Homo sapiens: one gene and its partners. The protein of the gene in region 3 purifies or fractionates together with the protein of the main gene of each other region. This does not show direct contact. Each region holds a gene or a part of one and is shown on either strand. Other genes may lie near its edges.

Region 1 (3,656 bases), on a different chromosome or scaffold from region 3:
GGCAACAAAAGCCAAAATTGACAAATGAGATCTAATTAAACTAAAGAGCTTATGCACAGCAAAAGAAACTATCATCAGAGTGAACAGGCAACCTACAGAATGGGAGAAAATTTTTGCAATCTACCCATCTGACAAAGGGCTAATATACAGAATCTACAAAGAACTTAAACAAATGTACAACAACAACAACAACAAAAACAACCCCATCAAAAAGTGGGCAAAGGATATGAACAGACACTTCTCAAAAGAAGACATTTCTGCAGCAGACACAAGAAAAAATGCTCATCATCACTGGCCATCAGAGAAATGCAAATCAAAACCACAATGAGATACCATCTCATGCCAGTTAGAGTGGCAGTCATTAAAAAGTCAGGAAACAACAGATGCTGGAGAGGATGTGGAGAAATAGGAATGCTTTTACACTGTTGGTGGGAGTGTAAAGTAGTTCAACCACTGTGGAAGACAGTGTGGCGATTCCTCAAGAATCTACAACTAGAAATACCATTTGACCCGGCCATCCCATTACTGAGTATATACCCAAAGGATTATAAATCATTCTACTATAAAGAAACATGCCCACGTATGTTTATTGCAGCACTATTCACAATAGCAAAGACTTGGAACCAACCCAAATGTCCATCAATGATAGACTGAATTAAGAAAATGTGGCACATATACACCATGGAATACTATGCAGCCATAAAAAAGGATGAGTTCATGTCCTTTGCAGGGACATGGATGAAGCCAGAAACCATCATTCTCAGCAAACTATCACAAGGACAGAAAACCAAACACCACATGTTCTCACTCGTAAGTGGGAGCTGAACAATGAGAACACATGGACACAGGGCAGGGAACATCACACACTGGGGCATGTTGGGGGGTAGGGGGCTGGGGGAGGGATAGCATTAGGAGAAATACCTAATGTAAATAACAAGTTGATGGGTGCAACAAACCAACATGGCACATGTATACTTATGTAACAAACCTGCACGTTGTGCACATGTACCCTAGAACTTGAAGTATAATAATTAAAAAAAATTATCTCAAGTACCTATAGTGATTCTATTAGGAACAATTATACCCTTTCTCCACATCTTAAACCAAAAACGAATTTTTCTATGAATTAAAGACTGAAATTTAATAACCATAAAAATAATTTTTGTTTTTATTTTTTGAGAGAATCTTGCTCTGTCACCCAGGCTGGAAAGCAGTGGCCCGATCTTGGCTTACTACATCCTCTACCTCCCAGGTTCAAGCAATTCTCGTGCCTCAGCCTCCTGAGTAGCTGGGATTACAGGCATATGCCACTGTGCCCAGCTGATTTTTGCATTTTTAGTAGAGATGGTGGTTTCACCATGTTGGCCAGGCTGGGTTTCAAGTGGTCCACCCGCCTCAGCCTCCCAAAGTGCTGGGATTACAGGCGTGAGCCACTGCACCTGGCCAGCATAAAAATAATTTTTAAAAGACAGGTGAATATTTACATAGTCCCTTGCCAGAGAAAACTCTTCCAACATGCCAAGAAAGATGGTAATCTTTACGAAGGAAAAGAGCAATGGTGATCTGGCCAAATACAAGTCAAAACCTTTTCTATGTACAAGAATGTTCACAGCATTGTGGCATTCACAATAATGTTACAAAAGTGGAAACAACCCAAATATCCATCAATGGACAAAACAAATAAAATGTGATGTGTGTGTGTGCATATATATATATATATATGCACACACACACACTGTACTGACACATGCTATAACGTGGATGAACCTTGAAAATGTGCTAAGTGAAAGAAGCCACATATTTTACAAAAGGCCACATATTTTATGACTCTATTTATATATAATGTCTAGGATAGACAAATCCACACAGAAAGTAGATTAGTAATTGCCAGGAGATTGAAGGAGGGAAAAATGAAAAACGGGGAGTAATTGCTAATGAACATAGAGTAATTAAACATTCTGGAGTTAGGTGACCAATAAACAACTTTCCGAATATACAAAAAAATCACTGAATTGTACACTTTGAAAGGGTGCACTTTATGGTATGTGAATTTTATCACAATGTTATTATTTTCTTAAACCTTCTGAATGTCAAAAAGTAACACGAGCAAGACTAAGAGAATAATGAAATAAATATGAAAGAAAGTTTACTCTTAACAAGATTCCTTATAAAATAAGAAAAAGTCAAATTTACCAACAGAAAGAGGGACAGTTACAAAAAGGGACTTTTTAAAAAAGAAATGGCCAAAAACCCCATAAATAATCAAAGACAAAATTAATATGAGATTATTTTACCTATAATACAAGAATTTTTTAAAATAACTGCCATTTTTGTTTCCCCTGAGGATAAATAAACACTTTCTGACAAAAGTTTTAAACTCTTTGAAATGTTCTTTAAAATTCAATTTCCAGAAATTTGTCCTTTAAAAAGGGCCAGGGCTGCAGACACAAATAGCTACAAGGATGTTGTTTTAACCCAGTCTTTTGGATGCAATTAACTGTAACTGAGATCTACTCAAACCAGCTTTTGTTTGTTTGTTTGTTTTTTAAAGGAGACTTCAACACAAGGATATCTTAACAGAGCCCAAGGTCAGGAAATACAGTCATCATTTATAAGAGGCATTTAAAAAATCAAATCATGACACTTCTCTGCTGAAACTTTCCAATGGCTTTTCACAAAATTTAAAGTTCAAACTCCTCAAATGCTTAGTTCTGACCCTGCATCCCCCACTCATTTCAAACTGACTGCCCCCAGCTTCTTTTATGACAGTCATTCCAAACTCCTTTCTGTTACCGTAAACACATCAAGCTCTTTCCCATCCCAGTACCTTCTCATTTACTGTTGCCAGTGTCATGAAGATTCACCACCCCTCGAATCCCTATAGGAATACTCTTTCTCCAGCTTTCATCTTGTCTAACTCACCCTTACTCTTCAGATCTTAGGAGAAAGGTCTCCTTGGAAAGGCCTTTCTGATCTCATTCTCCTCAGGGTTATGACCCTATCTATCTTACATTACTTATTTAACAGTTCTTACCACATTCTGTATTTTTTTTTTTTTTTTTTTTTTGAGACGGAGTCTCACTGTATCGCCCAGGCTGGAGTGCAGTGGTGCGATCTTGGCTCACTGCAACCTCTGCTGCCCAGGTTCAAGCAATTCTCCCAACTCAGGCTCCCGAGTAGCTTAGATTACAGGTGCCTGCTATGGCGCCCAGCTAATTTTTGTATTTTTAGTAGAGACAGGGTTTCGCCATCTTGGCCAGGCTGGTCTTAAACTCCTGACCTTCTGATCCACCCACCTTGGCCTCCCAAAATGCTGGGATTACAGGTGTGAGCCACCGCGCCCAGCCACATTTATATTTTTTGGTGTATCTTCTCCATTAGAATAATAGCTCCAAGAAGGCAAGGGACTTGTCTGCCTTGTTCCTTCCACCCCTGTGCCCCCATTATAGTGTCTGGCATATAAAAGACATACGTATCATTGCATGAATTGGCTTTCCAAAGCCACCAGGAACCAAGCTAGCTTCAATGTCAACTTCAGCCTCTCTCAATCTCTCTTTCTCTGGGGTTCCAGGGCTGCTTACCTAGCTCACATTTCCTTTAACTGAGACTGTGCAGCATATCTAAATCTTGATATCCAGACTTCTGGGAGATTATCT
Region 2 (2,734 bases), on a different chromosome or scaffold from region 3:
TTTAATTTCATAAAATTAAAAAACTATTTTAAAAATTCCTGTAGTTGTTGGAATAATTAAAAATTCTGGTGCAGTGGTGGTATACCAATCTTTAGAATTCTTAAGTATTCTAATGTTTCAAGTTGAGATCATGCTTGGGAAAATCATGTCATAGCATTTATGTTATTTTCAGATGCCATTTTTTACCCTGGAAAGAAGTCATAATGTTCATCATAACCCTAGCAGCCTGGATAGTGAGCTAAACAAACCCTTCAAAGATTAAATTTTAATCAAGTAGACCGGGAATACAAAAGACAAGTCCTTCCTTCCCTTCCCCCCACCTTTACAAATCTTACTGGAAGGGTGTTCAGAAATTAAAATCTGTGTTTGCTAAGACTTCATTCTGTTGGGGGTTTTAAGAAGTAATATATGTAACATAAAATATATGTAAACGATTGCAGTTTTTTTGGACGTTTTTCCATGCATCAGTAAGTTGTCTGACAGTAGCCAAATGTAACTTGCAGAAAATTATTGAAAATTATATTCAGAATAATAGCAATCAGGCCTTGGATGTTCTTTATTAAACTCTTTTCAGGCAGTAAATTTAAAAAAAATTGTCATTTTCTAAAGTCCTTTTGCTAAAACTGTTGACTATGGAAAACAACAAAAAGGAATTTTTTAGTCTGCTGCTATTATTAACATTTATTATCTGTATCTTTTGGCTCAGGAAATGACTTCACCTATTTTTTCCATAAGCAGACCTTTAACAGAGTCACTTAATTGGGCTGCTTAAACAGATGTTCTGGGAGAAAATTATAATATTTAGTATTTGTACAAAATATCAAAAAGTATTTTGACAAGTTTCTTTTTAAGATAGTTCCTAAAGCCTTACCCTGGCTAGAGGTGTTTTGTACAAATTATATATAAGCCAGCCTGATCTACCAACATGCCACAGAGAATCACAATCAACAGTGTGGGGAAAGTCAGGGCAGTGGAAGTGGATGCACTCTTTTTATTTTGAAGGCTTAAACCAAATTGTCTTGGAATTAAAGCTGTATTTCTGCAGCTTTCGGTACAGAGAAAAAGAGGAAAGTGAAGCTGTGTCAGTTTTAACATTAGCTATATCAACATGTTTAAGAAAGATAGATGAAGTCATTTGCATAAAGGTACAGCATTGAAATACTATGTTGTGTTTGTTTTTACATTTTTGCATTAAAAAAAAACATGCCGTAAAAGCCAAGTTAAATTTCATATTAAAGCAAGTTCTAGTGTATGTGTTGAGTTCCTGGTAATCACATACTTGTTCACATCTACACCGTACTTCATAGTATGATTTGTCAGGGGAGGGATTGTGGGGTGACAGTTTTACATTTACTTTTTCTTCTTAATGCAGCTGGATCTAAGTAAAATGTTTTGAAGTTTATCAGAAACTAAATGTACTTTTAAAACGTATAGGGTCAGGGTTGGGGGAAAAATACAGGTATAGTAAGTAAGAAAAGTGACCCATGAAGAAAGCATCGTGAGGTTGTATGTTGGTTGACTGTGATTAAAATGCGGGGCTGGTGTAAGTTGTAAGTGGTGGCTGATTGCCGTGTAACTATGTACATGATTGTTGGGATGGCTGTCCCATATTTTGTATATTGGAATAAAAATTTCTATAAATTATTGTAACTAAAAGTAAATATTCTAAATTAAGTCCCACTTCTTAAGTCACATGGCTTCTGTCTTGGAAATTTTACCTTTAAAAGATTATTTAAGACAGGAACCAGGAGGCTTGGGAACAGGGAAAGAGGGAAATGTTGTATTATGTGGGTCTTGGGGCCTCTAACCATCAGTATAGGGTTTTTTCTTTCCTTGATGGCAGTAGAAAGACCTCATTTTCATAACATAACTACTCTTGATACTTTCTTTAAAAACACTTTTTATTAAAGATTCTATCATGAGGTATTTGGCTGGGAGCTGGGAGGCTAAAGCGCTCATGTCCTGGCTCTTCAGTGAATTTAACTGTGTGACCTTGGGCAAGTCACTTAACCTCTCTGTGCTTCAGTCTCCCTGTCTTGTAAAATGGGAGTAATACCTACCTCACAGGGTTGTTGTGGGGATTAATTAGAGATAATGTCTGTAAAGCATTTAAGGTTCTTGAAGAAGGCACTATATAAATACAAAATAATATCTATTAAAGTTGGTTTATTTGTGCCTGTGGGTTTCAAGTGTGTTTTTTCCTTTTTGCCTAAAATGTATTTACAGATTAGAAGTAGACACTTTGGAAACTGTGTTACTGCTTTTGCCCAAGCTCCTACTTCTGTATCCAAAGAGATTTTCCCTAGAACAGAATTGCATGTGTGTAAAACAACATTCTACATGTGCCTGCATTTATTTAGCACATAGTAGCTTGTGTCACCTTTCTGTGATAGCATGTCTGAAAAGTTCAAAGTTTAAATTTGAACATTGAGAGTCATAGAATCTTAGAGGGTAAAATAGGTAAAATACCTTAAAGATCACTGTTTCTCCTGCTCCTCCTCCTTTCCTGTGTAGTAATTGCTCCTGTAAAATCTGTTTTCACAAGTGGTCAGTCAACCTGCACTTGAGTGCTGGAAGCCTGTTCCATTATTGAGTAACTTGAGTTGTTATTTATGTTGCCATTATTTTCAGCCCATCCTTCATTCTCCCAGTGTGCTTCTGATCTCAAGGCTGATCTTTGTATTAGATGGCTTTCAGAGACTTCATCCTTCCTGGGAGCCCTATTCTGGAAGCA
Region 3 (3,551 bases):
GGTTTGCTTTGAAGAATTTCTCTCCTGCTAGGCTGCTGTGGCCCAAGTGCCCCTGCCTCAAGGCTCTGTCCCCTCCTCCAAGGAGCCCGCTCTCCTCACCGCAGGGCAGGACCCCAAGGAGGGTGCGGGCTCTTACCCAGTAGCCACGGGGCACAGGAGTCCATGATGCCATCCTTGGCTGACTTGAGGATGGACTCGGGCAGGGGGATGGAGTGCCGCACCATGGCCCCGTAGAGCCCATACTCCGCCATGACACTGCTCCGGCCCCAGCACTTCTCCCGCTTCCTCCACTTGGCTCGACGGTTCTGGAACCAGACCTGCAGGTGCACAGAACAGGTCAGAGGCTTGCTCTGAGAGGTGCTGGGCCCAAGGCCCTTACCCCTTGTAGGCTTGGAGTGAAGATTTCTCCAGCAGGGCGTCCTTAACCTAAGCTCGCCTACTCCATGGTGCCCTCTGTGTTCCTCCAGGCTCAGGGAGTATTCAGAAGGAGGACATCAGTCTTATGAGAATATCATGGGTAGTTCTAGGGAGATGGGGTATGGATGCTTCCTGGACAGGGTCTTGCAGGTGCGCAGGACCCAGTGTCATCGACTGTTTGCAGCTGAGAAGCCTGCCCTGCCACTGATGGCTCTCTTGCATGTGTTCACACCTCCAGCATATAAATCTTTTTTTCTGATTTGCAGAGGGACAAATTCCTTTCCCAGCACTGGACTAGCAGTGTCTCTGGCTCAGGGCTTCCTCTCTGCCAGAAGCCCAGAGTCACAACCATCCAGGAGGGCTGCAGGTGAGTGAGGGATCAGGGACAAAGGGCAGGGGACAGTCTTAGGGGCACTTCACCCAGGTATCAGGAAGGCTGGGAACTCAGGGAGGGAGACTCCCCTCGGAGGCCTGGGTCAGCCTGCCTCCTCCACCCTGTCCCAGCTAAGCTCTGCCAAACCACATGTGCCCTCCAGGTACCTGCTCCCCACAGCTCCGAGCCTAACTCTGAATAGTATTTGGGGAGCTGGACCAGGGATGAAGATAACATTCTCCAGGGTTGAGGAGCAAATGGGAGGAGGGACCTGGGAGGGAGTGGGGGCGGAGGAAGCACTAGCGAATGTGTCTCTGGCCCCAAAGCTGATTGGTGCAGGGTCTGAATGACAGTGGGGTACCCTGGGGTGTCTGCAGCACTCTAGCCCATTCTAGGATCCCAGAATCCCTGCCAAGTTTGAGGAGGGAACATTTCTTGGTCCCCCAGAGCAGCTTTCCGGAGATTTCCCGCAGCTGACAGAGCCGGGAGCCCCTCGCATTGTCCGCCAAGGAGGTCCAGGCCCGCGGGGTAATGGTGCGCCCCAAGCCTGGCGGTTCCCTTCTCGCCCCTCACAGTCCTTAAAGGCTCAGACCCCGGGGGCAGCGAGTCGCCCCAGGGAAGTCGAGGGAGTCGGGAGGGGAGGACCGAGGCGGGCTTGGGAAATCTGTTCATTTCCTCCCGATTTCCTTGCCTGGGTCTGGGCCGGCGCCGCCCTTCCCTCCGGGCCCCCTCCCCCGCGGCAGAGGTATCAGCTTTTAATGAAAAATTGCTCCAGCTCTATTCAGGAGGCGGCAAAAGAAGAGTCACCCCCAGGGGCAGCCCTGGGCTGATTGAAAAATAAGTTAATTTCAGTTTGAATCGATGGGCCTCAGGCACTGAAATACCACGGGAAATTAAAGCGGCTGCTCTCCCGGGAGCCGCGGCATTGACCCGCACTAATTAATGCTGGGGAGGCAGCACTCGCCTCGTCGCGAGCGCCCCCGCTTCCCCGGGGACCCCCAACTCTTCTCATTTAACTAATTAGACGGGGAAAATTGGGTGTTAATTTGTTTAGGATTTTCCCCCTTCCCCCCGGCAGCCCCTCGCGGCCCCCGCCCCGCGCGGCGCGGAAATGCATGCGGGCTCGGCGGCAGATGGCTGCCCGGGTCACGCTGCAATCTCCTCCGACTTGATTGCTTGATTAGGTCGTTAGCACATTAAAAAAAAATTGCTTGCCGTCTGGCGCTGGCGTGATGAGTGGGACGCTCGGCAGCGCCTGGGTAATTTATCTTTTTATACGGCGAAGAATTTGATTTCAATCTGCAGATATATGGGGCGCCTTTGACACCTGTTTAACATCGCGCCGCTGACAGCTTAACCCTTCGCTTCCTGGGGAGCGGGAGCTGGGGCCGGCGGGGCTCGGGGGAAGTGGGTGGGGGGTGGTCCGCGCGCTCCTGCGGTTCCCGCCGTTGCCGTCAGGTGGCGAAGTGAGCGCCCGGCGGCGCGGAGTCTGCGGCGGAGCGCGGCCGGCCAATCCCCGGCAGGGGCGCTCCGGCCCGCCAGCCTCGCATCCCACGGAGGTCACAGAACACTGCACGCGCACCTTTAAGTTGACCCAAACGCGTGTCCTCTGGCCTTTATTCATTTGTAAATAACTGGGAGCCTCTAAACATGGGAGCTACACGGCCTTAGATGCCCCCGGCCTCTCCCGCCCCGGGTGGCTCCATCCCCGTTTGGGCAGCACTTTTGCTGCCTCCGGGTTTGGCACCTGCAGTTCCCGCGCAAAACTGGGGGGCTGGGAAGCACAGGTGCAAGGCCTCTGCCTGGTCCGGACCTGACCACCCTGGGAGACCCCCGCCAAGGAAAGGGTTTGTGTAATCCGAAGGCCGCTAGATGACTGTCCTCCCTGCCCTGAAGGGAGTGGCAGCAATGCCAGCCGTGCTAACTCGGGCCTGCGTCCCGGCCTGGCTCCATGCCGTATGTAGATCTCCCCAGCGCCGCGGGCCTGTGCTGCAGGATGTGTGCCCGACTAGCTGTGTTACCCGGGGCCTGCGGTTTGTCTGGGGCCTCAATCCTGCCCCATCATCCTCCCCTTAGCGTATCTGCTTGCTGCAAGCTGCTTTCTCCCACAGAGGAAAAATCCAAAAGGACTAATCTACATAAAAGTATGACTCCCGGCCTGGCGCAGTGGCTCATGCCTGTAATCCCAGCAGTTTGGGAGGCCGAGGCGGGTGGATCACCTGAGGTCAGGAGTTTGAGACCAGCCTGGCCAACATGGGGAAACTCCATCTCTACTAAAGATACAAAAATTAGCCGGGCACGGTGGCGCACACCTGTAATCCCAGCTACTCAGGAGGCTGAAGCAGAAGAATCGCTTGAACCTGGGAGGTGGAGGTTGCAGTGAGCCGAGATCGTGCCACTGCACTCCAGCCTGTGCAACAGAGCAAGACTCTGTCTCAAAAAAAAAAAAAAAAAAAAAAGTATGACTCCCGGTTTTATCCACCTCTCAGAGAAGACAGCAAAGAATGAATCCCCTGGTGATGGAATTCCAGACACCAAGTGTGACCACAGAGGGCTGGAGAGGTTTGGTTCATGAATATAAGAAGCCACCTACTTCCTGGTCGGGTGACAGTCTGTCCTGCTTGAATACAGTGCATTATATTAGGTTGGTGCAAAAACTTATTGCAGTTTTTGCCATTGAAAGTAATTACTTTCGTTTGAGATGGAATCTTGCTCTGTCACCCAGGCTGGAGTGCAGTGGTGTGACATTGGCTCACTGCCA

The links.
Region 1: the proteins of VSX2 (region 3) and WDR48 purify together in Homo sapiens (affinity purification with mass spectrometry; 2 studies listed by BioGRID and IntAct, with this or other methods). This does not show direct contact.
Region 2: the proteins of VSX2 (region 3) and USP12 purify together in Homo sapiens (affinity purification with mass spectrometry; 3 studies listed by BioGRID and IntAct, with this or other methods). This does not show direct contact.

What each region holds. Positions count from the first base shown.
Region 1 is NC_000003.12:39,058,486-39,062,141, reverse strand, and holds part of WDR48 (WD repeat-containing protein 48), read right to left. Parts: intron 1-3,656. UniProt on the Homo sapiens protein: Regulator of deubiquitinating complexes, which acts as a strong activator of USP1, USP12 and USP46. Enhances the USP1-mediated deubiquitination of FANCD2; USP1 being almost inactive by itself.
Region 2 is NC_000013.11:27,065,597-27,068,330, reverse strand, and holds the end of USP12 (ubiquitin carboxyl-terminal hydrolase 12), read left to right. Parts: 3' UTR 1-2,175; downstream 2,176-2,734. UniProt on the Homo sapiens protein: Deubiquitinating enzyme that plays various roles in the regulation of the immune response and inflammation.
Region 3 is NC_000014.9:74,256,368-74,259,918, reverse strand, and holds part of VSX2 (visual system homeobox 2), read right to left. Parts: intron 318-3,551; coding exon 137-317; intron 1-136.